Linked DNA regions of Homo sapiens. The protein of the gene in region 1 purifies or fractionates together with the protein of each later gene. This does not show direct contact. Each region holds a gene or a part of one and is shown in the gene's direction. Other genes may lie near its edges. The genes, in order: DNAJC2, SRP54, ZC3H15, RPL21, PPP6R1, GNL3 and DNMT1.

Evidence for each region.
Region 2: the proteins of DNAJC2 (region 1) and SRP54 purify together in Homo sapiens (affinity purification with mass spectrometry; one large-scale study listed by BioGRID and IntAct). This does not show direct contact.
Region 3: the proteins of DNAJC2 (region 1) and ZC3H15 purify together in Homo sapiens (affinity purification with mass spectrometry; 2 studies listed by BioGRID and IntAct, with this or other methods). This does not show direct contact.
Region 4: the proteins of DNAJC2 (region 1) and RPL21 purify together in Homo sapiens (affinity purification with mass spectrometry; 2 studies listed by BioGRID and IntAct, with this or other methods). This does not show direct contact.
Region 5: the proteins of DNAJC2 (region 1) and PPP6R1 purify together in Homo sapiens (affinity purification with mass spectrometry, with the first as the bait; one large-scale study listed by BioGRID). This does not show direct contact.
Region 6: the proteins of DNAJC2 (region 1) and GNL3 purify together in Homo sapiens (affinity purification with mass spectrometry; 2 studies listed by BioGRID and IntAct, with this or other methods). This does not show direct contact.
Region 7: the proteins of DNAJC2 (region 1) and DNMT1 fractionate together in Homo sapiens (co-fractionation; one large-scale study listed by BioGRID). This does not show direct contact.

Annotation. Positions count from the first base shown.
Region 1 is NC_000007.14:103,317,268-103,320,767, reverse strand, and holds part of DNAJC2 (dnaJ homolog subfamily C member 2), read left to right. Parts: intron 1-923; coding exon 924-1,012; intron 1,013-1,089; coding exon 1,090-1,159; intron 1,160-3,500. UniProt on the Homo sapiens protein: Acts both as a chaperone in the cytosol and as a chromatin regulator in the nucleus.
Region 2 is NC_000014.9:34,981,783-34,985,791, forward strand, and holds the start of SRP54 (signal recognition particle subunit SRP54), read left to right. Parts: upstream 1-1,209; 5' UTR 1,210-1,433; intron 1,434-4,009. UniProt on the Homo sapiens protein: Component of the signal recognition particle (SRP) complex, a ribonucleoprotein complex that mediates the cotranslational targeting of secretory and membrane proteins to the endoplasmic reticulum (ER).
Region 3 is NC_000002.12:186,484,823-186,489,059, forward strand, and holds the start of ZC3H15 (zinc finger CCCH domain-containing protein 15), read left to right. Parts: upstream 1-1,437; 5' UTR 1,438-1,560; coding exon 1,561-1,635; intron 1,636-4,237. UniProt on the Homo sapiens protein: Protects DRG1 from proteolytic degradation. Stimulates DRG1 GTPase activity likely by increasing the affinity for the potassium ions.
Region 4 is NC_000013.11:27,250,279-27,254,357, forward strand, and holds the start of RPL21 (large ribosomal subunit protein eL21), read left to right. Parts: upstream 1-1,279; 5' UTR 1,280-1,307; intron 1,308-3,486; 5' UTR 3,487-3,498; coding exon 3,499-3,565; intron 3,566-3,941; coding exon 3,942-4,003; intron 4,004-4,079.
Region 5 is NC_000019.10:55,242,018-55,245,517, reverse strand, and holds part of PPP6R1 (serine/threonine-protein phosphatase 6 regulatory subunit 1), read left to right. Parts: coding exon 1-26; intron 27-115; coding exon 116-253; intron 254-267; exon of another isoform or gene 268-332; coding exon 333-398; intron 399-3,029; coding exon 3,030-3,142; intron 3,143-3,238; coding exon 3,239-3,352; intron 3,353-3,500. UniProt on the Homo sapiens protein: Regulatory subunit of protein phosphatase 6 (PP6). May function as a scaffolding PP6 subunit. Involved in the PP6-mediated dephosphorylation of NFKBIE opposing its degradation in response to TNF-alpha.
Region 6 is NC_000003.12:52,692,015-52,694,997, forward strand, and holds the end of GNL3 (guanine nucleotide-binding protein-like 3), read left to right. Parts: intron 1-721; exon of another isoform or gene 722-798; intron 799-857; coding exon 858-1,032; intron 1,033-1,172; coding exon 1,173-1,315; intron 1,316-1,393; coding exon 1,394-1,530; intron 1,531-1,617; coding exon 1,618-1,793; intron 1,794-2,022; coding exon 2,023-2,089; intron 2,090-2,178; coding exon 2,179-2,261; 3' UTR 2,262-2,483; downstream 2,484-2,983. Other genes in the region: GLT8D1 (glycosyltransferase 8 domain-containing protein 1), read right to left, coding at 2,831-2,983. UniProt on the Homo sapiens protein: May be required to maintain the proliferative capacity of stem cells. Stabilizes MDM2 by preventing its ubiquitination, and hence proteasomal degradation.
Region 7 is NC_000019.10:10,132,846-10,135,953, reverse strand, and holds the end of DNMT1 (DNA (cytosine-5)-methyltransferase 1), read left to right. Parts: intron 1-101; coding exon 102-218; intron 219-1,646; coding exon 1,647-1,737; intron 1,738-2,252; coding exon 2,253-2,287; 3' UTR 2,288-2,608; downstream 2,609-3,108. UniProt on the Homo sapiens protein: Methylates CpG residues. Preferentially methylates hemimethylated DNA. Associates with DNA replication sites in S phase maintaining the methylation pattern in the newly synthesized strand, that is essential for epigenetic inheritance.

The DNA of each region.
Region 1 (3,500 bases):
TATATGTGTATATATATATATTTTGTGACAGAGTCTTGCTCTGTCGCCCAGGCTGGAGTACAGTGGCGCAATCTCCGCTCACTGCAAGCTCCGCCTCCTGGGTTCACGCCATGCTCCTGCCTCAGCCTCCCGAGTAGCTGGGACCACGCCCGGCTAATTTTTTGGATTTTTAGTAGAGACGGGGTTTCACTGTGTTAGCCAGGATGGTCTCGATCTCCTGACCTCACGATCCGCCTGCCTCGGCCTCCCAAAGTGCTGGGACAGTTTTAGAATATTAACTTGTTTTTTGGTTTGATAATGGTAAGATGATTATGTTTAGAAAAAAACTATCAGGGTTGAAAACTGAAATATGTACACCTGAAATTTAGAAAAAGTTAAAAACAGCCGGGCGCGGTGGCTCACACCTGTAACCAGCACTTTGGGAGGCTGAGGCGGGTGGATCACAAGGTCAGGAGTTCAAGACCAGCCTGGCCAAAATGGTGAAACCCCGTCTCTACTAAATATAGAAAAAATTAGCCAGGTGTGGTGGCAGGCGCCTGTAATTCCAGCTACTCAGGAGACTGAGGCAGAAGAATAGCTTGAACCCGGGAGGTGGAGGTTGCAGTGAGCCGATTTCGTGCCACTGGACTCCAGCCTGGGCGACAGTGAGACTCCGTCTCAAAGAAAAGAAAAAGTTAAAAACATTTACACTGAGATAAAATTATACCTGTTCAGTTGTCATTGTCTGTTTTTTTGAGATGGAGTCTTGCTCTGTTGTCCAGGCTGGAGTGCAGTGGCGTGATCTCAGTTTGCTGCAATTTCCGCCTCCAGGTTCAAGCGATTCTCCTGCCTCAGCCTCCCGAGTAGCTGGGATTACAGCTTTGTAATTATGTTGATGGATGTATTTTTGAGTGTAGATACTATTTTTGTGTTTGTGCTTTTAGACCTGGAATCATTTTTCTGATAATGAGGCAGAGCGGGTTAAAATGATGGAAGAAGTGGAAAAACTTTGTGATCGGCTTGAACTGGCAAGGTATACCTATGGAACTGCTATTGAAGTCTTCACTTGAGCTTAGGATAAAGTTTCATTTCTTCTTTTTTTTTCTTTAGCTTACAGTGCTTGAATGAAACACTCACATCATGCACAAAAGAAGTAGGAAAGGCTGCTTTGGAAAAACAGGTAATAGAGGAACACATCACTCCTACCTATATGTAGCATTTAATTCTGCTTTGACCTGTTTCTTCACCTAATATATAAGTCACCAAGTGCAGGGAGTATCTGATTTCTCTTTATGTTTCCCACTGTTTTGTTGTTGTTGTTTTATGTGTTCGGTTTTTTGGTTTTTTGTTTTGAGACAGAGTCTTGCTCTGTTGCCCAGGCTGGAGTGCAGTGGCACGATCTTGGCTCACTACAACCTCCGCCTCCCGGGTTCAAGTGATTCTCCTGCCTCAGCCTCCTGAGTAACTGGGATTATAGGCGCACAACACCACACCTGGCTAATTTTTGTATTTTTGGTAGAGACAGGGTTTCACCATGTTGGTCAGGCTGGTCTTGAATTCTTGACCTCATGATCTGCCCATGTAGGCTTCTCAAAGTGCTGGGATTATAGGTGTGAACCACCACGCCCAGCCTGTTTTTGTTTTTGTTTTTGAGATGGAGTCTCTCTCTGTCACCCAGGCTGGAGTGCGGGTGGGATTACAGGTGTGTGCCACCATGCCCGGCTGATTTTTGTATTTTTACTAGAGACAGGGTTTCGCTGTGTTGGCCAGGCTGGTCTCAAACTCCTTACCTCAAGTGATCCGTCCGCATTGGCCTCCCAAAGGATTATAGGCATGAGCCACCATGCCCAGTCTGCATTTTGTTTATGTAGTAAGGTGCTGTTGTTGATTTAAGTTGGATTAGATGTTTATGGTTTTTACCATACTTAGTGTTTGATTTGTGGTATCTATCACAAGCATAGCTTTTGCAAAATCATATTAGAAAAAAATAATTGTTTTGATTATTCCTTGAGTATTTTCATAGGGTAATAACAGTTAGAACCAAAAGAGATCTTTGTTCTGTCTAGTCTATACCTTTTATTTTACAGATAAGAAAACAGGCCCAGAAATTCAATTCAATTCAACAAGTATTAGTACCTACTATATATAGCACTATGCCTAGGTTCTTTTGGAGAAATGCCTAATGCTGTTGCACCACAAAGGACATGCTGAGAAGAACCTGAGAAGAACCTTAAGGACCAAAAGATGGAGAGCCCATAGTAAATGAGGTGTAGGATAGGAAGGGCCACAAGTTTTAGTGACCAGGGAAGGCTCAGTGTAGTTTGAACCAGCCTGAAAGGAAGGACAGAGTTAAAATGAAGGTCAGAAGAATACCACAAACTATAAAATAGAAGTAGAAGTATAAAGTATGGTTCAGCCTGGGCAACATAAACAAAATCTCTACCGAAAATACAAAAATTAACTGGCATGGTGTCGTGTACCTGTAGTCCCAACTTCTCAGGAGGCTGAGGTTAGAGGATTACCTGAGCCTGGGAGGTCACAGCTGCAGTGAGCTATGATCATGTCGGTGCACTCCAACCTGGGCAACAGAGCGAGACTTTGTCTCAAAAAAAACAGACAAAAAAAAAATGTTATGGGGAAATGGAGTGGGAAACAAAATCAGTTAGGAAAAGCAGAACCAATGATCAGGTTTTTAATACCTTGTTGACTAGTTTCCATTACTGCAAATCTTTGATTAACAGAAGGTTCAACATTGTACTACTAATCTGACGTTTGTGGATAAGGTGCATCAGATAGATGTAACTAGTTACAAGAATCTTATTTATTTAAGAATCTGCACTATGAGCGTGGTGGCTCATGCCTATAATCCGAGCACTTTGGGAGGCCAAGGCAGACAGATCCCCTGAGGTCAGGAGTTTGAGACTAGCCTGGCCAACATGATGAAACCCCATCTCTGCTAAAAATACAAAAATTAGCTGGGCATGGTGGCAGGCATCTGTAATCCCAGCTACTTGGGAGGCTGAGGCAGGAGAATCACTTCAACCTAGGAGGCGGAGGTTGCAGTAAGCAGAAATCACACCACTGCACTCCAGCCTGGGCGACAGAGTGAGACTCTGCCTCAAAAGTAAGAAAGAAAGAAAAAGAACCTGCACTATGAATGTGATGATGGGAATCAAAAAAATTTTTCAAGGTTAGCATTATTGGGACTTTACTGGTTCTAAGGGATTGAAGGGGAGAAATGAGCCAAAGCTGACTCTTAAGATAGCAGCTGACAGAAGCAACAAGGGCAAATAAAGGTTCTTTTTTTACTTGTGCATGTTTGAAGGTAGTCTAGAAGGAACAATGTAAATGGTAGAGCTTCAAAATAAAAGAGGCCATTTTGCTATGCCTTCACCTTTTGGTAGAGAATAAATGAGATTGTCTGCAGAAAGGGTGAATATGAGTTTGAAGAGAGGTTTGAAATGGCCTTGTGGATGAATAACTCAGTGACCCACAGACTTGTCAATTAGTGTCCAAGGCTA
Region 2 (4,009 bases), on another chromosome or scaffold:
CCCAATTAATTCCAAGTGGTACTGTATCCGATTACCCCCATTTTCCAAGAGATAGTTTATTTTTTCCCCTCTTTTCCCCTCCCCACTACACTTTCCACTTAGCCCTTTTTGAACTGCAAAATAACCTCTCAACTCCCCTCACCAGACCATTCTCTACAGAGCAAATTCATCTACGAGATCCAAGACGCAACTCCCACCGCCAGGCGGTCGCCTCAGAAGGGTAAGCAGAAAGCATGCCCACTTGGCCACTTTTACAACTTATTTCTGCTCAGAAATGCACCAACTCAACTACCCGGTAGATAAGGCACCAGCTAGCAGAGACCTCTTGCTCATTTCCTCTTGTACCTTATAAAATGCCCGCTTTTTTGCTCCAAAGACGAAGCGGGCTGGCTTCAGAAATAAAATCCCTCTTCTTGTATACTAGGGCTCGCTCTTGTTAATTGGTGTCTACGTGTGGCGAGCAACTAACTCTCTTTTCCGTTAGAGCACTCAAAGCCCTGGTCAATCTACCCCCCAAGACAGCAGAGACCAGCACAACGATCCCAAGGAAGGCTGTTGGCTTCACCCCGCTTAAGTCCTCAAAGTCAGCGCCTGCAGCATATCCTTGCCCCCACCACCTGCCTCTAGCTCTGGTCACTTACACTTACGGTTAGTTCGCATCCACTGTAACAGCGCCTGGCGGTCGGCAGGAGCCACAGTGCGAAGCGGCCGCAGCATCACTGCCTGCCTCGCAGTGGGAAATTTTACCTTGCTGGAGCAAGCCGCGCAGGCACTGGCTGGCATTGCGCATGCGCAAGCAGAGACCGCCCCACCCTCCGCGGAACAAGCCTCCGGTCTGCAAAGCCCTAAGCCCCGCCCCTCTACGGAGGTCTCACGTGCGCCTGGGGATCCCTGCCTTCAGTCACACCTCTATCTCTCATCTTTCCGCTCTTAGCTGGGAGTGCTCCGCCTAGTCACTTTTCTTAAGGTGGCTCGTCGAGGCCTGACTTCTTCCCCGAAATCACGTCCCTAGACAGCCTCCTATTTTACCACTAACTTTACTCCTGCAGTTATTCAGCGGTAGGAAACTGAAACCAAAAACCAGTGTAAGCAAGTAAACATCTAAACTGTTTCAGGAGCCGCGTAGAAGGAACGCGGCGGTGTGCCCCGGAAGCGGAAGTAGATTCTCCTATAGAAAGGCTGGACTACGCGGAGTGGTGACGTTTCCTCATTGGGCGGAAGGTTCGCTGGCACTCCGTTGGTCTTCCAGCTGGTGGGAGTTGACGACGTGGTGCTGGGCGTTGGGACCCTACTTTATCTAGTTCGGGAAGTTGGGTTGTGGGGTCATACCTGTCTGTCTGCTCCCAGCTTTCTTGGGTTTCTTCCGACGGCGTGGGGCCTCGCTAAGGAATTCCCGGCCCCTCAGGGCCACGGCTTTAGCGGTGTCTTTTGCGGTAAGTGTCTGCTTTTTCCCGCCCCAGACTACGGAGGGGGAGCGAGGGGCAGCCCCAGCGCTGCTCAGGAGGCGAGAGACTCCGGGGGAAGTCGGCCTCCGTGGCCACCGGCCATCGTTACCGAGACTGAGTTTCTGTGGCTCTTTATCTCGTCTTCCATGAGAAGTTTTATTAAAGATGCGCTGTGCCCCTTTTGAGTTGTCTTCCGATTTACCTGAGCCAAATAAGATGTAGGCAGTTGCAGGCCTGAGTCTTCGTTTTGCTTTCCTGAGCAAGAATTTAGATGAAGCTACTTCCCCGAAAATCCTTTTACTTGTACGAGACTTTTATTTTTCCTATGTGTTTGTAGTGCTTAACACAATGTCCTGCGTGTAGTAGACGTTCAATAAACGAATATGGAATATCAGTTGAATGCCAATGATGATTTAAGATAGACTGATAGCTCTCTCTGTACCATTTGACGCTGCTGACCATCCATTTCTTGAAACTTTCCCCTGCTGCCTTTCTTCATGCTATCCTCACCTGATTCTTTCACATGCTTAATTTAACAAAATATATACTTGTTCTTGGCTACAAGGATACAGAAATGAATAACACTAACTCTGCCATTGAGAAGCTAACGCACATAAATACACATTATATCAAGATGGGTAATGAGAAACACTAGTTGCATATAAAGAGCTGTAGAAAGCTGTGGGAGAGCTAAAGTGCTCCTTAGGTGCTTTGTGACCCTGAGCCAGTTTCTATTCCAATCTAGCCTCAATTTCCTCATCTACTTAATAGGCTTGTTTTGAGGAAGAAAGGAGATTAGGTAAGAGGTTTGGTTTGGTTTAGTGCCTAGAATACAGCAATCGTGGTGCCAAAGGGGAGGGAAATATTTCCCTCAAATCGCTTTTTCTCAGTTTTTTGATATGGCCAACTGGTATTTTCTACCTTAATATAGAGTACTATGCAAAAGCATCTTCAAGTCTTCCTTCCAGATTACTCCTCTGTCCCCATCTATTTGGAAATTCTGGACCTGCCACAGGATTACAGTAAGATAACCATAAATGTAGCTTTTTAAAAATTGATTTTCTCCTATGTGCCATGGAGAAAGGGAAAGGGAATTAGTAAAAGCTCCTATCTCTTTGGTTATTTTCAGTCTTGGTTAACGCCGTCCTTTTAGTTGGCCCTCAGTCATTGCTATAACCCAAATGGTCTTCCACAGGCTCTCCTCGAGGCTTCTCGCTTGCTTCCATGGCATTGTCCCTATATGCCAACCATGTCCAAACCTTATTCTTTTCATTTCCAAACCTTGTTCTTTTCCAAACCTTATTTGCTCTGTCGCCCAGACTGGAGTACCGAGGCACCATCTCGGCTCACTGCAACCTCCGCCTCCCAGGTTCAAGCAATTCTCCTGCCTCAGCCTTCCGAGTAGCTGGGATTACAGGTGCCTGCCACCACGCCCAGCTAATTTTTGTGTTTTTAGTAGAGATGGGGTTCCACCATGTTGGCCAGGTTGGTCTTGAACTCCTGACCTGAAGTGATCCGCCTGCTTCGGCCTCCCAAAGTGCTGGGATTACAGGTGTGAGCCACCATGCCCTGCCTAAACCTTATTCTTTAGCCTCCATCTCATGAGTTGATAGTTCTGTACTTTCCCCTAAAACTTGCAAACTCATTAGGTCCAAAACCAAATGCACTGTCTTCACCTTCCTTTTTTTTTTTTTTTTCACTATGACATATGTCATGCATACGAAAGTGTATAAAAGCAGTGATTGTCAGTGCGTTTTTGAGTTTTGACCTCTGGTTGAATTTTGTGATACAAGTAGGTTAAATTTTTAAAAGGATTATAAGGGCTGTGAGCAATGGCTCACGCCTGTAATCCCAATACTTTGGGAGGCTGAGGCTGGCAGATTGCTTTAGCTCAAGAGTTCGAGACCAGCTTGGGTAACATGGCGAAACTCCCTGTCTCAACAAAAGAGACAAAAATTAGCCAGGCTTAGTGGCGCCGCCTGTAGTCCCAGCTAGTTGGAGGGATAATGAAATGAACATCTATGTACACATCCTTCATAAAAAGTGAAACATTAAAAATAATACATTAAGTCCCTTTGACCTCTTCTCTATTAACTCCTCTGACTTTCAAACCACCTTCCCTTTTTGCCTTCCATTCATTGGTTAATGGCATCACTAGCCATCTGGTTATAAAAACTAGAGATATTGGAATCATTTTTGCCTCTTTTTTCCTTCACTTGCCATAACCATTTGGTCATTAGATTCTGCTTCATGAATTAGCCCTTAACCCTAGTTTCTTTTTCTCTAGTTCAAGGCCACATCTTGTCTCAACTAGCCTTATGGAGTATGGGTAGTGCATGTAGTGTCCTGGCTCTTCAGTTTTTTCCCTCCAATGTATTTGTTACACTGTATCTAAAGATGTTTCTAAGGTATAGAACAGATTTCTCATTCTGTTGTTTTCTTTGGGACATGTTATTAAATACTTAATATAGTGATTATGAACCCTTGCTGCACATCAATATAGCTAGTGAAAGTTTTCAAAACATAAATGTCTTGTTTTGCACTCCAGATTAAGAATTTAGATG
Region 3 (4,237 bases), on another chromosome or scaffold:
GAGTAAAGAGGGGGCTGGCTGCATCCCTCCATCCTCTGACAAGAACTATGACAATTACAAAAAATAAAGATGAAAATATGTAAAAGGGGGGGAGCCCATTAACCTGCCAATATGAGCCCAAATGAAAAAAAGTGTGTCAACATACACCTGCCATTCTCGACACAATTCTTTTTAGTAGCTATCACATTTCTTCTACACACACACATACACACACAAAACATACTTGGGGTTCCTTGACATTATCTTACGTAGAAAATTACTAAGCAAATAATCAATTTGACTAAGTAGGGGGGCTTATCGTTTTCTCCCTATTCAAATTAATGAAAAAGATAAAAAAACTTTTATCTATAAAGATGATTCTTGGTTCCACAATGCTTCTTAACAGAAATAGTTTAAACAATAATCATTTTAAAAAATAACAGCTAAGCATTGTACATTTTTAAAAAATAGTATTTTCGTTTGTACAAATATCAATGGGTCCCATTCATCATTCAAGTACCTTTTCAAACAGGATCTAAGTTTGTAATGTTAGGTAATAGGCATATAGGCTGAAGCCGGACTGCCAAGATTACAATTGCTGGCTCTGTCCTTAATATAACTTTGGGCATCTTTCTTCCTTTCTCTGCTTCATCTATAAAACGAAAACAGTAACAACTCCCACCTAAGTGTCGTTGTGATAACTAAATGAAATAGTGTGTGTAATGTGCCAAGGAATTTCTGGAGCTACCAAGCACTTAAACTAAGTTCTAACTAAGTTTGGTTACTTTCACGTTATAAAGGAATTTTTAGGAATCACCTAGGCACTCTCCTAAAGTCTCAAAATAACTTAATACAGTACTTCTAAGGAGTTCAAGTGCCTCCTTATCTGGGACGCCATCTCAGATGCTCTTCAAATGAAAGGGACCCTGCAAATGAAAGTTAACTTTTTCCATTTTTTAAATAATCCTTCGCAGGAATCTGAAGCACGCGACACTCACGGGCCATTCAGCTCCGCCTCTCCAGGGAACAAGAAGGTTAACTGAGTAACGTGGTCACGGAGCAACCCCGAGTCGCTGCGGCTGCTTAGTAGTCACTCAGGATGGGGATGGTACAGGGGACCATTAACTGGCCCGGCAGGAAAAGTTTCCCGGTGAGGTGACGATGGACAAGAGTCGCCCCATCGTAAGCGAAAGTGGACTGAGAGGAAGCACAAACGCATGGACTCAACCAGCTCGCCCAGATTCACCCTCAGGCCTTTTGCCATCTGAAAAGGGCCTATCGGATGCGCGACATCACGAGTGACGCGTAGTCATTTTCCCACGTCCCGTCCCTGCCCCCTCCTAGTGGGACGCAGTGGGCGCGCACGCGCAGCTCCGCTTCCGGGAGCCGCTCCTCGCTACCCACTATGCTCTGCGACATCGACCTGTCGCAAAGGCCGCGTTTGCGGGGCCAATGAGCGACTCGCTTTCCGTGCGGTGCGGCGAGTGAGGCCCCGGTCTTCCTCCTCGTCCTGCCGCAGGGCCAGAACCCCTGACGGTATTCAGCTGCGCGTAAGTCTGGCCGGTGCCATCTGTCTCCGCAATGCCCCCCAAGAAACAGGCTCAGGCCGGGGGCAGCAAAAAGGCGGAGCAAAAAAAGAAGGAGAAGATTATCGAAGTGAGTACCCACCCCTCCCCCACTCACGCCGCGAGCCCTCCGGAAAGCCACTTCCCCGCTCCGGGCTTCCCTGGGAGCCGGCTCGCTTCCTCGGGCCACGTGTTCCTCCCTTAGGCCTGTGTGGCCCACTGCCCCTTCTCCAGCCCCTGATGACGCTAGCTCTCTCATTACTATAGTGACGCTGCTGGCGCCCCCGCACCTGGGCTTTGCCTCTCCGCCCACACGCCCGTGTTCACCCACCCATGCACCCGGGTGCGAAATGACCCCTCGGGACTGGCACAGGGTTTTATCCTTCGCTAGTCCTCTCAGAATTGAGGAGATTTTCCAAGGTTATGTGTGAAGAAATACGCTGAACGGTCTCGGGCCAGCGTCTTTCTGGAAGACCGACTCATGACGAGTCTTTGTGTTCGTTATTTCTTTACCCGTCACCCAGGGATGGTACTGTTAGTTCTTTTGAACCAACAAATTACGACTTGGTGGCTTTTTCGATCCACCTCTGAAATGTTTAAAGTCCCATAAAGAATGGAAGGACTTTCCGTCACAACCCAGGGTCTTGAACGCAGAGCTTGGTACTTACATTCTGAAGTGGATTAAATAGGATAACGCCTTAAAAGAGATTAGGTTTCAGTGTCACTAATTGTGTGAAGTCCCGTAACCCAGTTTGAGATATATGTGTGTGTGTGCGCGTGTATATATGTATACATCTATGTGTGTGTATATGTGTATATATGTGTGTGTATATATATTCGTTTAACACATTGAGCCTGTAGCCCTTTAATGGCCAAGGAACGCTATTGACGTTCTTACATGTTGTGCACTTGTTTTCCAACAACTGAATTGAGTTTCCTTAAAAGATGAACCATATTTGACATTACGTAAACATACCATACAGACCCCAACGAGGTATTTCTTCCCTCGATTTCTGCTATTAATCCTCCTCATAATTAAATAGGACCTCTTGTACTTTGGATATAATTAGAAAAAGCCATGACCATTTTACCGCATAAGGTGTAAAGTCTGCTCATTGGATTTAAGAAAATGCTTAAGAATTTTGCTATACTTGGCCAGGTTCCAACTTTGGAGGAGAACTGGTATTCTTATTGCCAATTTGTACAGTTTAAAACTGTCATGAAGTACTATAGCCAGACACTTAAAAACAAAATATTACCTTCACATCTGTGTTTTCTATTACCTTATTTGAACAATCTGGATTCGTGGCACTTAGGTAAATTTCAGGGGTTGCTGATCGGATGGCATTCACTTTTATGAAAACCAAGGACATTTTAGGGATGTCGTTTTCCTCGAGATTGGACCCTGATACGAAGTAAAACTCCCATTGAAATTAAATGTTATGTAATAATTTAGACAATTTAAATTATACTTCATGCATTGTAGAGCTTTCTCTATATCTAATTGTTTTATTTTTAATTAGTAGGACTAGTATTCTTATTTTAAGGAATTATGTGTGAAAGTTGTTTATAGTATCCATCAACTTTTAAAATGATGCATATGTTATGATTCTAGTCATCTTGTGACGAAATTATTTTTTAGCTAAAGAGAAAGCAATTTTAGTTTCAATAATGAAGGTATCTCCAAAGAAAAATGCAAAATAAGACAACTGCACTTTTTAACTAAAAATATTAACAACAACAAAGTGGTGAAATTAAGCCCGATTTTGTGTTTTCTACATTTAATATATATTATTTTTTTAATTTATTTTTTGTTGAGGTATAACTTATGTAAAATAAAATGTACAGGTTCTAGATGTATAGTTCTATGTGTTTTGAGGAATTTATTCACCCAGGTAGCTGCCACCCTAATTAAGACTTGAAACATTTCTATCACCCCACTAAATTTGTTTTGTGCCTCTTTCTATTTAATTCTTTCCACACGTGCAGCCACTAATTTTTTTGACAGGATAGATTAGTTTTTACCACTCTAGGAACTCATATAAATTATACAGTAGGTAGCCTTTGTGTCCTTCTTCTTGCTTTCACACCATGCAGTGTTTTTGAGATCCATGCATGTTGTGTATATTTCTAGTATGTTCCTTATTGCTGAAAAGTATTCTCTTGTATGGGAACCATTACAATATGTCACCTTTTGTGTTTAGTGTCTCTCTCTACTTGGAGGAACCAAAAGACGTTATAATTGACGCTTGAAAAACAAACTTAGGATTCCAAAATGGGTTAGAGGCGGTGTTTGTTAAAATCTCGGCAGCCAGAATGGATTATTTTGTGGCTAATGGAGTCATCTGTAGGGACCTTAACCTTGGGGCATACGCTGAGTTGGCATGAGAGTGTCCAATCATCTGTATACATTAGAGCTACAGGATAGGCATCATTAGGGGATCTGGGTGGTGTGTCTATTTCTCTGGGAAGGACTGGTCTTGACTACACCCTCAGTTAATTGCAGTTGTTGAGCTTCTTGCTTTTGCTGAATATGCTTGCATTTTGCTTTCTTGTGTTTTGTGCTATCATTCTTTAACCTAACCTGCAGTACCGTTGGATGTATGTCTTTGAGGCCATTTCTTTCTGAAGACTGAGGTTTGGGTATGGGTTCTTAGTGAACAAGATGTTCAAATATTCCATTTGTTTCTCAG
Region 4 (4,079 bases), on another chromosome or scaffold:
GGAGACATCATAACTAAATGTAATGTGGTATTCTGGATGGAATCCTGGAACAGAAAAAGGGTATTAGGTAAAACCGAAGGAAATCTGAATAAAATGTGAACCTTAGTTAATAACAGTGTAAAATATTGGTTCATTAATTGCAACAAATGTACCATATTAGCATGAGATGTTAATAATAGGGGAAACTGGATGCTGGGTATATGGCATTATCTCAATTTAAATAAACTACATTAAGAAAATAATATCTATTTTTAAAGGTGTAGTGAATAAAACAATGGCCACCCATATATTTAACACCCGGTTTAATAATGGTCAATACAGTTAAAGCCTCCCTTTATTGTCCCCTCCTTACCAGATATGACTGCTTTTCTCAACTTGATTTTCATTCTCTTGTATTTCTTGACTTCTTTAACTACATATGTATGCATAACTAAGCAATATATAGCATTGTTTTACAAGTTTTAGAGTTGAATGTATATGAATTGTCATACTATTTATTTTTCTACATCTTTCTCTTTTTGCCTCATCACATTTCTGAGTTCAGTCTTCTTTTATTGGCGTATAATACTACATCCTAACATCCCATAAGGTATTTATTCTGTTATTGATGGACGTTTCTAATTTTTTGCTTCTACCCACAGCGCTGTTACGTACATCCTTGTTCACTTACCAAAGTTTCTACAAGACATATAGGTAGGAGCAGAGTGCTGGGGTTTAGTAATTGAAAACTTTTACTAGATTTTGCCACATTGCTTTCCCAAAGAGGTTTTAACATTTGCGCACCTACTAGCAGGTGCGTATGTTTAGACGTGTGGAGGAGAAACTATTTAAAGACATACAAACTAGATAATATACTTGCTTCATTCTCGTTTGACCTTCGTACCCAAGCAATTATTTCTGCAAACAAACAAATAAACAACTACTAATAGCACTTCCCGCACCGCCAGCCGCAGTTTTCCCTGCGGAGACGCGGATACAAGGCAGCTTCCGGCGAAGGCGGTGACGCAAAGGATGGCGTAAGCACGCTCGGGACGACGGCGTCCTCTTGATCGCCCTTGAAGGCCCCTTTCCGGGCTGTCTGACACGATGCAAGTGTCAGCTTGTGTTGGCCGGTTGCCTTTCTTTCGCAAGAGGGGAAAATATCCTCACAGACTTTCTGTGTTCTCAGAGACGATCTTCTTCCCTAGAAAGAAGTCGCTTACGGTTGGCGTTTCCCTCAGGCAGCGCCGTGGGCAGCCCACAGGCCCTTGTAAGGCGCGCGCCGCGGCCCCGCCTCTTTCCTTTCGGCCGGAACCGCCATCTTCCAGGTAGGGCCTACGCGTGGCTCCCGGGCGCTAGGTGTTCGACAGACTTGAACCGCGACCTTGTGGCCTCAGAGGTCGTTCATTGGGACCGTGGGGAGACTCTCTAACCTGTTTGAGGTCCATTGGCATGGGCGGGTTAAACCATGTTCTGCCAGACGGGGAGCAGCGTGCGCCGGGTCGGGTCTGGGCCGTGGGCTGAGAACCGGACTGCGATGTTGCGGCCCTGCGGGGGGACATTTGCGAGAAAGACGAGACTGAGTCGCTTGGGGTGAGGCGACTCGAGTTAATCTTTAAAAGACTTCGTTTTATGTTCCCGTGGCTGCATCTCCGGTACTGTGGGTGGCCCCTCTCACATAGGCTGTGTGGGGGCCGCGTGGCCTGATGCCTTTCTAACTCCTTTCAGTGTGGCTTTTTTATTCCAAATCTTGCGATGATGTTGGGTGAGGACTTAAGGGGTAGTAGGAATGGGTTTAAAGTCAGGCGTCGGCTTTAATCTTCTGTGAAGCCTACAGGTGTGAAAACCCGGGCTCTCGGTCGGAGAGTGGGTCCCGGAGTCGTCCTGGGTGATGAACCCTCACTGCCCTTAGTTAATGCATAAGACGATTTCCGACTGTTTTTAAAATTTTGACCCCACATGGTGATCGGACGAAGGGAAAGTGTTTTGAGGTTGCAACACCAATATTTGCACCAAGAGGAGATACTGTTTTGCGAATTCTAGGGCAGCATGCTTTGAGTGAAGGGAAACATTTAGCCATAGTTCATCATTTTGTCTAGTTTGTGGACGTCAACAGAGTCGAGCAAACTGCAGGTTGCTCTTTATGGTGGATCCTAGTTGCCATGATTTTAATACTCTTACAAACTGTAAAGCATCGTTTTGAAAAGTGCCTTCAGTTTTAAGTGTATGGGGTCCATGCTTAAAATGGATTCCAAACTCAGAAAGATGGATCTAGTGGAGGATTATGGGCTCTGGAATCAGGAATGAGTTAACTGATTATGCCACTTGGTGATTCCACAAAGTGACTTGAATCTACACAGTATCACCCTTTGTGTACTAACTTAGCACAAGTTTTTGGAACTTTATACACATCTAAAGGCTTTGGGGATTGGAACAGAGTACCTGGCATTTAAAGGGTTCATCCATTGTAACAATGGTTTGACTTTGGTGAGTTAGGTGAAACATGTCTTCTTGCTATACAATTTTTATAAAAATGGTACTTTGGGAGCCATTCTTAAAGGATTGTTGGTAAACTTAGAAACCAAATTGTGTTAGAATATTGTCAACACGTCAAGCCTGACTGCTGTATTTTACCTTATGGTAGGAGTAATGGCCAGGAATGGCATTTCTGCCCTATAATGACTAAAGAGCTATCAAAACTATTGTTTTGGCCTTTTTGGGAAACAAAGGAAAGGTTAATTTCTAAATGCCTGTAGGTGAATTCTTAGATAATGATAAATTAGCTGCCGGTTACTACTGAGCACTTTACACGGGCCAAGCATTGCTGAGTTCTTTGTAGACATTACCTCAGCTACGAAAGTGTTCACCCCTATTTTACAAATGAAGATGAGAGATGAAATGTGGGTGTCCCAGCTAGTAAGTGGCAGAGCCTATGTCAAATTTAGGTCAATGATTATAAAGCCTGGGTTCCCCTCTCTTCTACCCTATATACGTTCGTAGTAAATAATCAGAAATGTGAAGTGGCTTGAGATTTCTGATAGTTAAATAGATGATGTTTGAGATACACCATCACGGAAAATTTGGTTGACAAGAAAGGTTTAATTCACATAAAAATGTAAGGCTGTTTTATTGTGTTCTCCACTAAATTATCTTCTAGTTAGTAATTACATGCCCTTGGCATTCTAAATTGGGTTCTACAGATAGAGTGTGGTAGAAGTCCTGTTGTGTTTTTATATTCTCATAGAGAAAGGGTACTAGTTTGGATTCTCGTATCAAGTTCTGCTCCTTAAGAGTTTTGATGTTATAGAACTTGGGCAGTTTTGCCAAAAGACCTTACTTGCTAAAATAATGATTTTTTAACCTTTCAACAGAACTAACTGCTTGGTGATCCAGCTTTCAGTTTGCAGTTCTCACTTCGCTACTGAAATGTGAACATTTGAAATTACAGGGGTTTGGGGCAAATGCCAGTTTTCAGTCGTATTTGACTGTTCTGCTTTCTGGTTTCAGTAATTCGCCAAAATGACGAACACAAAGGGAAAGAGGAGAGGCACCCGATATATGTTCTCTAGGCCTTTTAGAAAACATGGTAAGTAGGTTTACCTTCCTTGAGAGAAGCATGGCACACATTTGTGTTCTGTTGTGTTCAACATGTGTTGTAGTTCATAGAATGTGTATCAATAGAATTAAATAACTAGCGTCTACCCAGCTTATTTCGTGATAAGGTAAATAAATTACCAAAATTATATGGTGATTTTGTGACTAAGTATTGATGCAAGATTAAACTTTGGAGAGAGGTTGTGATTTAGTAGGCTGATTGTGCTGTCAGGAGAAATTGTCCATTGGGAAGATAATAAGCATGTAACCATCAAAAATGATATATGTGTTAAAAGCTAGTAAAATTGCATTTCTTTTACTCTAGATTTTTAGCCTTAATACTCACTATACCAAATTTATTTTTGTAGGAGTTGTTCCTTTGGCCACATATATGCGAATCTATAAGAAAGGTGATATTGTAGACATCAAGGTAAACATAAAATTGGGAAAATAACACTACAGAAGATAGAAAAGTTGGATTTAATCTAGTGTAGGAATTCAAATAC
Region 5 (3,500 bases), on another chromosome or scaffold:
TCCTCATCAACCGCAAGACAGACCAGGTGCCCTGGCCCCCACCCTGGCGCCACCGTGGGTTGAGGGGTGGTGGCTGGGCCAGGCCCTGTGCATGACGCAGCCCGTGTGCCCCCAGCTCGTGTCCTTTCTTCGGAAGAAGGATGACTTCGTGGACCTGCTGCTGCAGCACATTGGCACCTCGGCCATCATGGACCTCCTGCTGCGCCTGCTCACCTGTGTGGAGCGGCCTCAGCTGAGGCAGGATGTTGTCAATGTGAGCAGGGCCGGCTCCTCTGGGGGTGGGGGGCTGGGCGTGGTGGACAGCGATGCATCCCTCGCCTTCTCACCCTCAGTGGCTCAACGAGGAGAAGATCGTCCAGCGGCTGATTGAGCAGATCCACCCGTCGAAGGATGAGAATGTGAGTGCTGCCGATGCCCCTGCGGATTCCCCTTAGAGTTCCTTCCCCATGCCCACTTCCCCACTTTTAAAAGAGGAATTGGGGCTGGACGCAGTGGCTCACGCCTGTAATTCCAGCACTTTGGGAGGGCGAGGTGGGAGGATTACTTGAGCCCATGAGTTTGAGACCAGCTTGGGCAACATAGTAACACCCCGTCTCTACGTAAAAACTTAGCTGAGTGTGGTGTTGCACACCTGTAGTCCCAGCTACTTGGGAAGCTCAGGTAGGAGGATTGCTTGAGCCGGGAGGTCAAGGCTATAGTGAGTCATGATCACACCACTGCACTCCAGCCTGGGTGACACAGTGAGACCCTGTCTCAAAAAAAAAAAAAGAAAGAAAAGAAATTGGTGAGAAAAGAGAGCATTGAGAACCAGGTGTATCCATGCCCTTTGAGAAAAGGAAAGAAACTTGACTCAAGTGATTCTCCCACTGTGGCCTCCGAAAGTGCTGGAAAGGTTTTTTTCATGACCCAGGAACTTGGCACATAATGCCTTGCAGGGAGGGGCCCTCCTCATCGCCTGTCCAAGCGCTGGCCCCACATCCGTCCCTGCCCACCCTGGCCTGTGCTATTGCTGGGCCTGGCAGCTTTTTCCCTGTCTCCTGCCTGATTGAACCCCTTGCTGTCCTTCTAAGTGTCCGTCCAGCAGCCTTGCTTTCAAGCGCCCTCACATCCTCCCCTTTAGCTCTGGGGGACCCCATGTCCATGTGTTTCTCCAGCTTGGGTCTCCATCTCTGTCCTGGTGCCCAGCACAGGGCCTAGTGTAGAGTGGGTGTTTGTCAAGAGCCTCAGATATCCGAGGCCACTGGGAGCAACATGTCCTTCCCAATGCCAACTTCTGCCTCAGAGGCGCACAGGCTTACAGAGCAGAGATGGCTCTGGGCTCACCCAGGCTGGGGCCTGTCCCTGTGAGGACCCTGAGGCATGGCCCAGGGCCACACTGCCAAGCCCTGGCAGCTGCCCGTTGGGTAGACTCAGCTCTGCTTATGCTTCTCTCTTTTCTCTCTTTTGTAGCAGCTTTACTGAGATGTAAATTGCACAGCATACCACTCACCCACCGAAGCTTACGATTCAGCGCTTTTAGGGTATTCAAAGCGTTTATCATCTTGTTGAATTTAGATTATTTTTTATCACTCCAAAAAACAAGTCCTGCCTGTAATCCCAGCGCTTTGGCAGGTGAGGCTGGAGGATTGCTTGAGCCCAGGAGTTTGAGACTAGCCTGGGCAACATAGCAAGACGTTGTCGCTACAAAAAATTGAAAAATTAGCTGGCATTGGTGGTGCACACCTGTAATCCTAGCTACTCAAGAGTCTGAGACGGGAGGATCTCTTGGGCCCAGGAGTTCAGGGCTGCAGTGAGCTGTGATGGCACCACTGCGCTCAAGCCTGGGGTGATGTAGAGGCCGTGTCTTTTTTTTGAGACAGTGTCTTGCTCTGTTGCCCAGGCTGGAGTGCAGTGGCGTGATCTTGCCTCACTGTAGCCTTGACCCCCCTGGGCTCAAGCAATCCTCCTGCCTCTGCCTCATGAACAGCTGGAACTAGAGATGCACACCACCATTCTTGGCTAATTTTTTTGTATTTGTAGAGATAGAGTTTTGCTATGTTGCCCCGACTGGTCTCAAACTCCTGGGCTCAAGTGATCCTGCCACCTTGGCCTTTCTTTTTTTTTTTTTTTTTTTGAGATGGAGTCTCGCTCTGTCTAGAGTGCAGTGGCACGATCTCGGCTCACTGCAGCCTCCACCTCCCAGGTTCAAGCGATTCTCCTGCCTCAGCCTCCCGAGTAGCTGGGACTACAGGCGCCTACCACTGCGCCTGGCTAATTTTTTTATTTTTAGTAGAGATGGGGTTTCACCATGTTGGCCAGGCTGGTCTCAAACTCCTGACCTCGTGATCCACCTGCCTCGGCCTCCCAAAGTGCTGGGATTACAGGCGTGAGCCACCGCGCCCGGCCCCACCTCGGCCTTTCAGACTGCTGGGATTATAGGCATGTGCCATCACACCCAGCCGAGACCCTTTCTCCAGAAAAAATAAAAAAGATGCCCTGTGTTCATTAGCAGCTCCTCCTGATCTTCCCCTTTCTCTTCTTAGCCCCCGGCAACCACCAGACTATTCTGTCTCTGTGGATTTGTCTTTGGACATTTCATATAATTGGAATCATGTACTACGTGATCTGTGTGTGGTTTCTTTCTCTAGCATGATGTTTTTGTGGCTCATTCATGTGGTTGCATGTATCAGTTTCACTCCTTTTCCTGGCTGATTAGCACTCTCCTGTGTGGATAGACCAGCTTGGGCATATTCACTCATCAGTCAGAGCCTTCTGGGTCATTGTGGGCGGTGCTGCCAGCCCTGTATGCGGTCATGAGGGCCTTGTGTGGATGCCTCCTGTCCTGGGGAGCCTTCCGGGCTTCCTGTTCTCTCCACCATCTTCCCTCCAGCAGTTGGTGCCTCTGTGCCCTCCTCCTTCGTAACACGTGTCCCTGTGTCTGGGTGACCATTTTTCCCTGGATGGTCAGCTCATGGGAGGGGCTCCCAGCACCAGGCTGCAGAGGGCCCGGTGGCCCGACCAGGATCCTCACCTGTCTCTCCCCGTTCCAGCAACATTCCAACGCATCCCAGTCCCTGTGTGACATCATCCGCCTGAGCCGGGAGCAGATGATCCAAGTCCAGGACAGCCCAGAGCCTGACCAACTGCTGGCCACCCTGGAGAAGTGGGTGTGCGGGCAAGGCTAAGGCTGGGGGGAGCTGACTTGGGGAAGCCCTGGGCCCCTGGCCCCTCACCCTGACCCCTGCCCCTGCCCCCGCAGGCAGGAGACGATTGAGCAGCTCTTAAGCAACATGTTCGAGGGGGAGCAGAGCCAGTCTGTCATCGTCAGTGGGATCCAGGTGCTGCTGACCCTGCTGGAGCCCAGGAGGCCGAGGTGAGGGATACGGGCCACAGACCATGCATGCTGCCCATCCCCAGGGGCTCTCCGGCCCCTCAGAGGCGGGTCTCGGTGTCCACCAAGAGAAATCCCCGCCCGTGGCACCTTGCTCTGTGGCTGCCTGTGCTCCCTGCACAGTGGACAG
Region 6 (2,983 bases), on another chromosome or scaffold:
AAGCTTTTGGTGAAAGCAGAGATTTAAGCCAGTGCTAGAACTGATTGGAGTGGGACAGCTGCCCACAATTTAGTTTGAAAGACAAGTTCAGCAGATAGATTGAGAGAGAGGAAAGCTCCCTCAGAGGAAGTGATGTTTGAACCTGGCCTTGAGAAATTAATAGAAATTTGCCAGATAGAAGTCTGCCACCACACCTGGCTAGTTTTTGTATTTTTAATAGAGATGGGGTTTCACTGTTGGCCAGGCTAGCCTCAAACTCCTGGCCTTAAGTCATCCACCCGCCTAGGCCTCACAAAGTGTTGGGATTACACTTGTGTTGGGTGGCATGAGCCACTGTGCCTGGCCAACTTTTAGATTTTTTTTTTTTGGGAGATGGAGTCTGTCTCCCAGGCTGGAGTACAGTGGTGCTATCTTGGCTCACTGCAACCTCAGCCTCCTGAGTAGCTGGGATCAAAGGCACCCGGCTAATTTTTGTATTTTTAGTAGAGACAGGGCTTTCATCATGTTGGCCAGGCTGGTCTCAAACTCCTGACCTCAGGTGATCCACCCACCTCGGCCTCCCAAAGTGCTGGGATTACAGGCGTGAGCCACCGCGCCCAGCCAGAAGGTGGCATATTTATAGCAAAGGAAATAGCATGTGTTTTGGTTGATGTAAATATATAAGCTATAACATGTAGTGTTCTCTTTAGAACAGTCGGGTATGCTGTTACAGTTTTAGATAAATGTGAAGCAAATGATGATAAACTGGATCTGACTGACTGTGCTGAGTCTGTTCAATCCAACCCTGAGCTTCATGTTCTGTCTCTTAACCTCCAAATAGACCAATGCCCCCATCAATTCCATCGCTCTTCTTTCAGGAGCATGCAAGTTGTCCCCTTGGACAAACAGATCACAATCATAGATAGTCCGAGCTTCATCGTATCTCCACTTAATTCCTCCTCTGCGCTTGCTCTGCGAAGTCCAGCAAGTATTGAAGTAGTAAAACCGATGGAGGCTGCCAGTGCCATCCTTTCCCAGGCTGATGCTCGACAGGTAAAAGGACCCCTTCTCATGAGCTCCTTGGAGCCATCTTCTTTCATCATAAGCATTTTGAGTAGAAAAATCTTGGAAGTGTTTTAAAGTACTGGCATGTCAGATGAAGGACAGCTCCTTTGTTTGGTTTTTTTTTTAAGGTAGTACTGAAATATACTGTCCCAGGCTACAGGAATTCTCTGGAATTTTTTACTGTGCTTGCTCAGAGAAGAGGTATGCACCAAAAAGGTGGAATCCCAAATGTTGAAGGTGCTGCCAAACTGCTGTGGTCTGAGTGGACAGGGTAAGCTTTCTTTTCTGTTGGCATTTTGGTGACCACTAGAATAAACCTTCTTTTGACACATCTTATTTTTAATATCAGTGCCTCATTAGCTTACTATTGCCATCCCCCTACATCTTGGACTCCTCCTCCATATTTTAATGAGAGTATTGTGGTAGACATGAAAAGCGGCTTCAATCTGGAAGAACTGGAAAAGAACAATGCACAGAGCATAAGAGGTGAGAATTGTGTGTCGCTGCTGTCTTCATCAGCTGACAGGCCAGTGGAGCTCTTACCTGTTTACATGGGCTTGCTTTCTTTCCCAGCCATCAAGGGCCCTCATTTGGCCAATAGCATCCTTTTCCAGTCTTCCGGTCTGACAAATGGAATAATAGAAGAAAAGGACATACATGAAGAATTGCCAAAACGGAAAGAAAGGAAGCAGGAGGAGAGGGAGGATGACAAAGACAGTGACCAGGAAACTGTTGATGAAGAAGTTGATGTAAGTGTGTCCTCCATGAGTTAAAACTGAAGTGAGTTTTCTAGCATTATAATACATAATGGAAGGAACTGAAGATAGGAAATATTTGAGGCTTGTGATCCATTAGCCTTAATTTTGCACATCCCGTTATATGTACCTCCAAAGAGTTAATTTTTCAGGTACATAACTACTTGGATTAAATGAGCAGACAAGGGCTACTAATCCAGCACTATTTTTCTTTGTCACACAGGAAAACAGCTCAGGCATGTTTGCTGCAGAAGAGACAGGGGAGGCACTGTCTGAGGAGACTACAGCAGGTGAGGCAGGCAAAAGGGGTTCTAACGAAGCAGCATGGTATAGAATCACTTTTACTTTTTGAAAATCTCTTTATTTTCCTGCAATATAGGTGAACAGTCTACAAGGTCTTTTATCTTGGATAAAATCATTGAAGAGGATGATGCTTATGACTTCAGTACAGATTATGTGTAACAGAACAATGGCTTTTTATGATTTTTTTTTTAACATTTTAAGCAGACTGCTAAACTGTTCTCTGTATAAGTTATGGTATGCATGAGCTGTGTAAATTTTGTGAATATGTATTATATTAAAACCAGGCAACTTGGAATCCCTAAATTCTGTAAAAAGACAATTCATCTCATTGTGAGTGGAAGTAGTTATCTGGAATAAAAAAAGAAGATACCTATTGAAAAATGTAAGTTTTATTTACAGATCAGGCCACAGGTTACAAAATTAAAACCAACAGCAGTTTTGAATTATCTGTACCAGCTAGCTGAACTAGCCATATCAGTTCTTCTTTCCAGTCATTCAGCATTGTAGTAAGAAAACACTTGGTAAGGCAGATGGAGACATATTTATAGTCTATAGTCTGTCTGGGAAGCTGACTGCCAGACAGGGCAGTTTGTCATCTTTACCTAGCTGACACATCTTTTTCCATGGCTTGCTACCGATAGGCATTGAAGCCTAGCAACTGTTACTTCCCACGCATGCTATCTTCCAGGACTTCCTGAGAAATGCTTGCTTACAGTTCAAATTCTGTTTCACTTTATGTTTGAGATCTCGGTATATCTTCGGATTAGGTTGAATTTGCCTGTTGGGTCTGGAATATACCATTTTTCCCAAACATCAGTATATGAAGCAGTCCTTCCCCATGGCTTCAAATGTCCATTCCAATGGAGTAACTTGGCAGCCTT
Region 7 (3,108 bases), on another chromosome or scaffold:
GCCATGGCCGTATGCTGTCACAGTGCCATTTCCCTCCCTGTCCCCGACGGTGACCCGGCCTGGGTGCTACTGCCCTCGCCCACCGCGCCTCTTTCCCCCAGGGCCGCGTGCTCCACCCAGAGCAGCACCGTGTGGTGAGCGTGCGGGAGTGTGCCCGCTCCCAGGGCTTCCCTGACACCTACCGGCTCTTCGGCAACATCCTGGACAAGCACCGGCAGGTCAGTGGGGCGGCGCCCGCTGGGTCTGGACAGGAAGGAGGCTTCTGTGCCTGTCACCAGGTGGGGCTGGGGCCAGCGCAGTCACTTCCGGGAGGACGCCTGCTGGCTGCCGGGTAGCCCCATCACTCTCAGTGGGAAGACGGCCCACAGGAGGGACAGTGCTGAGACATCCGAGTCAGGCTGCGTCCCTATGCTGGTTCCTTACTGTTTGTTTTTGAGGCAGAGATTGAGCCAGAAGGACAGTCCGTCGCGCTAAAGGAGCAGGCTAAAACCCATGGTGGCGACAGCTCACTCGCTGTAGGTTCAAATGAACTAGCACCTTAATTCCTACCTGCTTCTCAGGTGTCGGGTTGGCTTAACAAGTTAGTCTATGAGTTAGTCTCAGTTAAGTGTATTTTCATCATAGGGCACGCGCATTGCTTAAAAACCAGTGTCCACGGTTCTTGTGAAAACCACATTTCACCCCTCCCCCCGAATCTGGTTCTCGGGAAGCAGCCACTCTCTCTTTTTTTTTTTTTTTTTTGAGATGGAGCTTTGTTCTTTCGCCCAGGCTGGAGTGAAGTGGCGTGATCTCAGCTCACCGCAACTTCCACCCCCCTGGTTTTAAGTGATTCTCCTGCCTCAGCCTCTTGAGTAGCTGGGATTACAGTCATGTGCTACCACACCCGGCTAATTTTTGTATTTTTAGTAGAGATGGGGTTTCACCATGTTGGCCAGGCTGGTCCCGAACTCTTGACCTCAGGTGATCCGCCTGCCTCGGCCTCCCAAAGTGCTGGGATTACAGGCATGAGCCACTGCGCCGGCCAGGGAAGCAGCCACTCTTAACTGGGAGCGAAACGTGTCTAGGTGGCCCATTTGTCTTTTTTTTTTTTTTTTCTGAGACAGGGTCTCACTCTGTCCCCTAGGCTGGAGTGCAGTGACATGATCTCTGCCCACTGCAACCTCCACCTCCAGGGTTCAAGTGATTCTCCTGCCTCAGCCTCCTGAGGTGCTGGGATTACAGGCATGTGCCACCATGCCCAGCTAATTAGTTTTTGTACTTTTAGTAGAGACGGGGTTTCACCATGTTGGCGAGGCTGCTCTCGAACTCCTGGCCTCAACTAATCCACCTGCCTTGGCCTCCCAAAGTGCTGGGATTACAGGCGTGAGCCACTGCTCCCAGCCCCACGTGTCTTTGTCTCAAGTCTTTCTGAAGCTCTTCAAAGGCCCAGTGACTTGTGGCTGTGGGGCGGGATGATGGGCCAGTTGGAGGGTCCAAGGATCTTGTGCTGGAAGGGTTTTGGGCCCATGTGAGCAGGACCAGAACCCTTCCCCAAGGGGTGCAATGCCCAGGTTGTCCTCCATCTGAGCAGGGGCTGGCAGTACACCTGCCCCCGGGCCTTGGGCCTGGGTGTCCACATCAGGCATTGCCCTTCTCCCCTCCTGCAGGTGGGCAATGCCGTGCCACCGCCCCTGGCCAAAGCCATTGGCTTGGAGATCAAGCTTTGTATGTTGGCCAAAGCCCGAGAGAGTGCCTCAGGTATGGTGGGGTGGGCCAGGCTTCCTCTGGGGCCTGACTGCCCTCTGGGGGTACATGTGGGGGCAGTTGCTGGCCACCGTTTTGGGCTCTGGGACTCAGGCGGGTCACCTACCCACGTTCGTGGCCCCATCTTTCTCAAGGGGCTGCTGTGAGGATTGAGTGAGTTGCACGTGTCAAGTGCTTAGAGCAGGCGTGCTGCACACAGCAGGCCTTTGGTCAGGTTGGCTGCTGGGCTGGCCCTGGGGCCGTTTCCCTCACTCCTGCTCGGTGAATTTGGCTCAGCAGGCACCTGCCTCAGCTGCTCACTTGAGCCTCTGGGTCTAGAACCCTCTGGGGACCGTTTGAGGAGTGTTCAGTCTCCGTGAACGTTCCCTTAGCACTCTGCCACTTATTGGGTCAGCTGTTAACATCAGTACGTTAATGTTTCCTGATGGTCCATGTCTGTTACTCGCCTGTCAAGTGGCGTGACACCGGGCGTGTTCCCCAGAGTGACTTTTCCTTTTATTTCCCTTCAGCTAAAATAAAGGAGGAGGAAGCTGCTAAGGACTAGTTCTGCCCTCCCGTCACCCCTGTTTCTGGCACCAGGAATCCCCAACATGCACTGATGTTGTGTTTTTAACATGTCAATCTGTCCGTTCACATGTGTGGTACATGGTGTTTGTGGCCTTGGCTGACATGAAGCTGTTGTGTGAGGTTCGCTTATCAACTAATGATTTAGTGATCAAATTGTGCAGTACTTTGTGCATTCTGGATTTTAAAAGTTTTTTATTATGCATTATATCAAATCTACCACTGTATGAGTGGAAATTAAGACTTTATGTAGTTTTTATATGTTGTAATATTTCTTCAAATAAATCTCTCCTATAAACCACCCTGGGTGGGTATTCGTGATTTGCACGGGACTTCTGGCTGAGGTCAGACAGGAACAAGCTCTTCCATGCTGAAGGCGACCCACGTGGAGTTTGAAGCTAGCACGTTTGAAGCTAGACACTCCGTGTGTCTGTCTGTGTTTGTTCAGAACTGAGTCACGTGAGTTGATCCCCATGACATGCAAATGGAACTTGCTAGTGTAGCTTCCAGGAAAGCCTTTTAAAGGAAGTCTTGGCTGGCCTTCCCCGTGGCTGGTAGGCCTTCTTTGGTCTGAAGTGGGTTGTGATGCCTGGCAGTGGAGCAGCCATCCTGTGACCATGAGGCAGAGCTCTGTGCTGCAACTGGTGGAATAAGGAGAGAGAAGTCACCACTGAGCTGCCCTTGGAGCCCCGGCCACCCCATCCCCAAGCAAAACCTCTTTAGTTGGGTTTTTTTTCTTTCCAAAGAATTTTTTTTTTTTTTTGAGACAGTCTTGCTCTGTTGCTCAGGCTGTAGTGCAGT